Linked DNA regions of Homo sapiens. The protein of the gene in region 1 purifies or fractionates together with the protein of each later gene. This does not show direct contact. Each region holds a gene or a part of one and is shown in the gene's direction. Other genes may lie near its edges.

Region 1 (3,746 bases):
AGGTTTCCCCTGACCCCAGGACCTAAAGCTGGGGCAGGTTCTGGGCCTTGAGGTTGGTTGGGGGTGACCCTTCCTAATCATGGAAGTCTTTAGCGGGGGCTTGTAAGGGACTGTGAGCTGAGCTAAGGAGAATGGAGGTGGGGTGCCAACCGCTCCCAAAGGGAAATGCCATCTCCCACTCACAGCCAGTTAGCCGAGAATGGGAGCTCCCAAAGGGAGGACCACCCATGGGTCTGCTTGACTCAGCCCTCCCCAACCCCTTTCACCTTTGCAGTAAAACTCTAGCCAAGGAAGACAAAGAGACCTTTGGAGACCAAAACAGAACTTTTAATTCGGGCCAACAGCAGGCTCATGCCCAAAATGGCTGCCAACCCCAACAAAGAAAGCAGCTAGCTTATATGTCGTTTGAGATGGGAAAAACAAGGTAGGATACAGGTTTCAGACAAAGACAGTAAATTACTTAACCCGTGACAATTCTGAGGAAACTGGCAATTCAGTTATATTGACTAGTCATCCTCCAAGCTGGACTAGGGTTGGAGGCTGGGGTCCCGAGGCAGGTGATAAGCTTTTGAGATAAGCTTGCATCTGCAACTTGTTACAATGCTGGGAGGGGCTGCTTAAAATTTTAGCCTATGTGTTACTTCTAAATAGCTTATACTAAATGTTAACTGTTTTCATGTGCGTCCATGTGAAGAGACCACCAAACAGGCTTTGTGTGAGCAACATGGCTGTGTATTTCACCTGGGTGCAGGCGGGCTGAGTCCGAAAAGAGAGTCAGCGAAGGGAGATAGGGGTGGGGCCGTTTTATAGGATTTGGGAAGGTAATGGAAAATTACAGTCAAAGGGGGTTGTTCTCTGGTGGGCAGGGGTGAATCTCACAAAGTACATTCTCAAGGGTGGGGAGAATTACAAATAACCTTCTTAAGGGTGGGGAAGATTACAAAGTACATTGATCAGTTAGGGTGGGGCAGGAACAAATCACAATGGTGGAATGTCATCAGTTAAGGCTGTTTTTACTTCTTTTGTGGATCTTCAGTTACTTTAGGCCATCTGGATGTATACCTGCAAGTCACAGGGGATGCGATGGCCTGGCCTGGGATGCGATGGCCTGGCCTGACAACTATTACCTATGTTATGTTTATTATTTTAAGCTTTATTATTACTATTTTATTTATTTTATTTTATTTTCCTTCCACACACCCGTTTCCACCCTGGAGAGGCCAGATGAGCCAGACTCCAGGGAGGCCTAGAAGTGGGCAAGGGGAAACGGGAAAGGAGGAAGATGGTATGGGTGTGCCTGGTTAGGGGTGGGAGTGCTGGACGGAGTTCGGGACAAGAGGGGCTCTGCAGCCATTGGCACACAATGCCTGGGAGTCCCTGCTGGTGCTGGGATCATCCCAGTGAGCCCTGGGAGGGAACTGAAGACCCCCAATTACCAATGCATCTGTTTTCAAAACCGACGGGGGGAAGGACATGCCTAGGTTCAAGGATACGTGCAGGCTTGGATGACTCCGGGCCATTAGGGAGCCTCCGGAGCACCTTGATCCTCAGACGGGCCTGATGAAACGAGCATCTGATTCAGCAGGCCTGGGTTCGGGCCCGAGAACCTGCGTCTCCCGCGAGTTCCCGCGAGGCAAGTGCTGCAGGTGCGGGGCCAGGAGCTAGGTTTCGTTTCTGCGCCCGGAGCCGCCCTCAGCACAGGGTCTGTGAGTTTCATTTCTTCGCGGCGCGGGGCGGGGCTGGGCGCGGGGTGAAAGAGGCGAAGCGAGAGCGGAGGCCGCACTCCAGCACTGCGCAGGGACCGGTGAGTGTCGCTTCTGGGGGCAGCGCCCAGTAACCGCGCTAGGAGCGCGGAGAAGGGCATTGGGAGAGCGGCGTTCGTGGCGGAGACTAGCGCTCCGGAGCACGGGCACGACGGGGGCACCTTCTCGGCTGCTAGTAACTAACAATAATAATAATCATAATCATAGCAAGGGCGCTGATGGGCGGGCTCGGAGCACGCCTGATTCTGGTTCCCACCAGGCTGCCCAGGCTCCTGATGACGCATCAGAAACATCCCCCTAACCCGCGGCCTTCCTGCAGGAGAGGTTGGGAAGGGGTGGGGGACGGGGCTCGGGGGAGGTCTCCGAGGGACTCTAGTAAGCGGGGAAGGGCGCCGGGAAAGTTTCAGATCCACGGCTGCGCGGGCCACGAGCCCACCCGAACGCCGACCACTGCTTTCCGTCGACTTCTATTTCCTGGGAACGCGCGAAAGCAAACCCAAGTCAGACTGCGGAGGTCGCTGGGGAGGGAAGGTTCAAGGAGTTCTCGCCGATCCTGCTGAATAAAGGGGGTTCCGAGCTGGGCCGAGATGGGGCATGCGCGGGAAGACCCCTGCCCGCTGTTCCCCCCCACCGCCCCAGTGGATGCCATGCCTGGGGCCTCCCCGGCGCGTGGGGCTGACGCACCCTCGGGGTCCATCGTAGTTGGCCGGGATCGTGGAGTGGGTGCGGTGGACGAAGGGAGGCAGGACAGTCCCGGGGGTGGCAGAAGGAGCCCGGGCACAGCTGAGACCTGCGCTCCCATCCCACCAACACTCACAGCAGGTGCTGCCGAGCTGGGCAATTGGGATGGCCCAAGTTATTTGGTTAAATTTTAAATCACGTTTGTTACTGGGAAGTAGAGTCCAGTGATGCTAACCGCGCCTCTACCTCCACCACCGGTGTCAGTCCCAAAGGGCTCCTAAAATGGCTGTGTCATCTTTCAGCCTTGGACCGCAGTTGCCGGCCAGGAATCCCAGTGTCACGGTGGACACGCCTCCCTCGCGCCCTTGCCGCCCACCTGCTCACCCAGCTCAGGGGCTTTGGTAGGTAGCAGTGCATTTGGTCTAAAGGGCAAGATGTTCTCTCTTTTATTCATAACAAATTTAAATACCAGCAGGGTTTGGGGGGAAAAACGCTTTCAGAAGAAAAGGTGAATGTCAGTCCTGCAAGAGTTAGTTTTAAAACTAGACTGAATTGGCACATGTATACCTATGTAACAAACCTGCACGTTCTGCACATGTACCCCAGAACTTAAAAGCTTATAAAAAAAGAAAAAACTAGACTGGATTATGTTGGGAAAGTGTAGCCTCTTCCATCTTAGGCATTTCCTAGAACGTAGGCAGTAGGTGGTCCTTATTAGGAGTTTTGGGAGAGGAAGGGGGCTGAATCCTACCTCCCATCCCTGCTCCTCTATGGGGTCTGAGCTGAGGAAGCTTCACCACAAGGAGAGAACCCCCTGACAACCCTGGATGCCACCTTTACCCTCACTGCAGGAATTCTGTGGCCACACTGCGAGGAGATCGGTTCTGGGTCGGAGGCTACAGGAAGACTCCCACTCCCTGAAATCTGGAGTGAAGAACGCCGCCATCCAGCCACCATTCCAAGGTAAGGCAGAAATGAAGTGGGCCGTTGGGTTCTTTCTTTTCTTTCTTTCTTTTTTTTGAGACAAGGTCTCACTCTGTCGCCCAGGCTGGAGTGCAGTGGCGCCATCTCAGCTCACTGCAACCCCCGCCTCCCAGGTTCAAGCGATTCTGGTGCCTCAGTCTCCTGAGTAGCTGGGATTACAGGCACACATCACCACACCTGGCTAATTTGTATGTGTTTAGTAGAGACAGCATTTCACCATATTGGCCAGGCTGGTTTCAAACTCCTGGCCTCAAATGATCCACCCGCCTTGGCTTCCCAAAGTACTGGGATTACAGGCACGAGCCACTGCACCCAGTC
Region 2 (3,746 bases), on another chromosome or scaffold:
TAAGGGCACTCTGTACACAGCCCTATCAGAAACGAGGTCACACTGCACTGTTGTTTACCTGTCAGTCTCTCTCCCTAGATGTATAGCTTTTTTAGTAATTTGTTGACATTATCACTTCAATGATATTACTTTGTGATACTGACATTATCACTTCAACGAACACAAATCACCCACAATCGAAGATTCCAGTGAAGAACCACAGATATGGAGCTGCATTGGAGTAAAGCTAGGTATCTTGTACAAAACCAGTGGTTCCTCACCTATAACGTAACACATTTGGAGAAATTTCAAACTCATTAACTGACTATGGCCTCAAACTAAATATGGGAACATAACTGAGGAATGAATGACAATTGAATTGCATACCCTGTTATACATGGCTAAAATGAGTTTAAGCTGAATAATTAGTAATTAATAAGAATGATGGGAATCACTTCATGAAATTGAGTCACAGACAAGATGCAAAAAGAAAAAAAGAAGAAGAAACCAGGCCGGGCGCGGTGGCTCAGGCCTGTAATCCCAGCACTTTGGGAGGCCAAGGCGGGCCGATCACCTGAGGTCAGAAGTTCGAGACCAGCCTGGCGAACATTGTGAAACCCTGTTTCTACTAAAAATACAAAAAATCAGCAGGGTGTGGTGGCACACGCCTGTAATCCCAGCTACTCGGGAGGCTGAGGCAGGAGAATCGCTGGAACCCGGGAGGCGGAGGTTGCAGTGAGCCGAGATCGCACCATTGCACCCCAGCTTGGGCAACAAGAGCGAAACTCCGTCTCAAAAAAAAAACAAACAAAAACCAAGATCCTGCAATCTGATAGTCCCTATTTCCAGAATCCCATGGACTCAAAACAACAGATCACAGGGATTCACAAGGTGGCTGGAAAGTGCACTCCCGTGGTCAGAGGGATTCTCTGGAAACTGCAGCCTCCACTTACTGAATATTATCGCTGTTCTGGGGAATCTTCAAGCTTGACCATACATGGCCTCCGGGGGGAGCCAAGGAGGACGCTGAGCCGTCAAGATTAAGAACCTTCACCTGCGGGAGGGCAGGGTGAGGTAGGAGACAGGTGGGCACCAGAGAAGAAATACGCTTATCTTCCGGGCAGGAGGGCTGAGGAAGAGAAAGGACAGACTAAGGCAGAGAGAAGGCCTGGAGAAACAACGGGCCCCGGCCTAGCGACCCAGGTTCCCACCTGCCTCTGGCTCTGACTCACCGCGTGGTCTTGGACAGACACAGTCGCTTCGCTTCTCTGGGCCTCAGCTTTCCTATCTGTAAAATGGAGGTGATGACAGTGTCCACATCGTCGGGCAGGAGCTGGATCATAAGAGCCAGCGAACTGGAAAGGCGGTTTGTAACCTGGAAGGCTTGGGATGGAGCATCGTCATGATTTTGTCCTGAGAGCAGCAGGTACCCGGGCGGGGTCCAGAACCGTGACGCGACTGCAGCGCCGGGGCCCAGCTCGTCTGGGTGCTCCCTTCAGTACCTCCTTCCGAGAGTTCCCAGCGCCCAGGCCCACCCTGATCCCGGGGCTCGAAAAACTTTGCCTCCAGCTCGCTCCACCCGCATTCCCTTCCCAGTTCCGCCCCGCAGCCGCTCACTCACCTCCAGACCCAGAGCCGGCGGGAGCCGCATCTCTATGGTCGGCCGCGGCTGGAACGGCCCCCGGGGCCCGCTTTGTGCGACCGCCTCCGGCTCAGCCGCCTCTAGGATATTGGGGATGTGGAAGCCACTCTCTCTTCCTCTTGCCGGCTGCCGGGGTACTCTATGTTTTGTCTCTGTGGTTTTTCCCGCCCTCCACCCCCACTCCAGCCCTGAAGCCGGAGAAGCACCATCGAGAGCTCTGGGGTAGAGTGGCGTGGGCTTCTCTGTGGGTGTGGCGGGAAGTAGATGAAAGGACCCGGGGCGGGGCCGAACGCAGCTTCCCCAAGGTGCAGGCGCGGTGAAACCATCGAGACGGAGGGCCAGAGAGTCACGGCGGTGAGAGGGCTGAGTGACGGGTTACCCCAAACCATGTGGCTGGAGGCGCGAGCTGGGGTGTGGGCGAGGTTCAGGAGGGGGTTCCTGGGTGTCGCGGAGGGGCCGGGGACGGGAGAGCTTTGTCTGTGGCCTTCCATGCATAGGTGTTTTGGAATTCTGGATCCCAGTTCTGAGGCTCAGCCGAGGTCACTGCTGTCAGCTCACCTCCCTGCATGCCAGGCGCAGGGCAAAGTGGCCGGGGTTCGGGGTTGGAGGAGAGGTGTACTAGAAACAACTTTGCTCTTGTCCCTCAGGATCTTATTGTCTACGATGTGACGATCCGTGGAGAAAGTAGCAGATGGGCAGATTTTCATTTGGGGAGAATGAGGGAGAAAAGAACGGGCATTCCGAGCCAAGAGCACTGCATGAGCAAGGAGTTGGGAGGTTGCTTACTTGTTGAACATATTTGTTGCGTATTTGCATATTTGCTAAACAGGTAGTGTTAGGAGCTAATCCATGAAAGGTAGGTGGGCGCCGTATTGTAGAGAGCCTTGAGTACCAGGCTGAGTTTATACCCAATTCAGGGGTCTGCTGGGAGCCAGCCATTGAAGGTGCTGGAGCAGAGAGAGATATGGTATTGGAGCTGATCCCTATGATGAAAGATCTGGACCCTTGTGTAGATGTTCCGTGAAGCAGGAGGTGAAGACCTATTAAAATGCCATTTCAAGAACTACGATTTTAAAGACAGTTTAGGTGGGAGGTAATAAAGGTCTAAACAAGACGTTAAATATTGGGGACGTAAGGGGGAGGATATTTGAAGGACATTACTCATAACAAGACATAGGGTTACTGACAAGTCAACGGACGCTTCTCCCTTGCTGACTGCAGCCAATGGACCCCTTTTTATCATAGCTGGTCCCAGGGACCACAAAAATCCTGTCCATCCATTACCCTGATGTGAAGCCTGTTTATATAGCTCTTTTTGGTTTAAGGCATCTCCAGACATGGTCCTCTGGTAGGAAACAGGTATGAGTAGACTAATGAAGGACAAAATGGGATGAGGGACCTGGAGCCTCCACCCTTGCATTCCAATACCACCCTTACCCCACAAAAGGAGGGTATTGACCCACACAGTAATGCTGACCTGTGGCCAGGGCTGGGGAGGTCCAATTTCTAATCTGTGCTTTGTCCCATCTCCACTGTTCCCCACCCCTAGGTTTTCGTAACACCCCAGGGCCTGTAAGGTTTGGTGTTTCCCTTTCAAGATGCCACTTTCAGACTTTATTCTGGCTCTGAAGGACAATCCCTACTTTGGGGCTGGATTTGGGCTGGTGGGTGTGGGCACAGCCCTGGCCCTGGCCCGGAAGGGTGTCCAACTGGGCCTGGTGGCATTCCGGCGCCATTACATGATCACACTGGAAGTCCCTGCTCGAGACAGGAGCTATGCCTGGTTGCTTAGCTGGCTCACCCGCCACAGTACCCGTACTCAGCACCTCAGTGTCGAGACTTCGTACCTTCAGCATGAGAGTGGCCGCATTTCCACTAAGTTTGAATTTGTCCCCAGCCCTGGAAACCATTTTATCTGGTAAGGTGGGGAGCTAGGGAGGGCTGTGAGAGTAGAAAAGAATGATGGGAGCTGGGTTTGACCCATTCACTCACTCAGTTTTGATCGTTCTTATTCAGGTATCGGGGGAAATGGATTCGGGTAGAACGAAGTCGAGAGATGCAGATGATAGACTTGCAGACGGGGACTCCTTGGGAATCTGTCACCTTCACGGCCCTGGGCACTGAC

The links. The genes of interacting proteins can lie anywhere in the genome.
Region 2: the proteins of MX1 (region 1) and BCS1L purify together in Homo sapiens (affinity purification with mass spectrometry; 2 studies listed by BioGRID and IntAct, with this or other methods). This does not show direct contact.

Annotation. Positions count from the first base shown.
Region 1 is NC_000021.9:41,424,460-41,428,205, forward strand, and holds the start of MX1 (interferon-induced GTP-binding protein Mx1), read left to right. Parts: upstream 1-1,779; 5' UTR 1,780-1,804; exon of another isoform or gene 1,805-2,087; intron 2,088-2,746; 5' UTR 2,747-2,845; intron 2,846-3,295; 5' UTR 3,296-3,407; intron 3,408-3,746.
Region 2 is NC_000002.12:218,657,769-218,661,514, forward strand, and holds the start of BCS1L (mitochondrial chaperone BCS1), read left to right. Parts: upstream 1-1,914; 5' UTR 1,915-1,975; exon of another isoform or gene 1,976-3,170; 5' UTR 3,171-3,219; coding exon 3,220-3,539; intron 3,540-3,637; coding exon 3,638-3,746. UniProt on the Homo sapiens protein: Chaperone necessary for the incorporation of Rieske iron-sulfur protein UQCRFS1 into the mitochondrial respiratory chain complex III.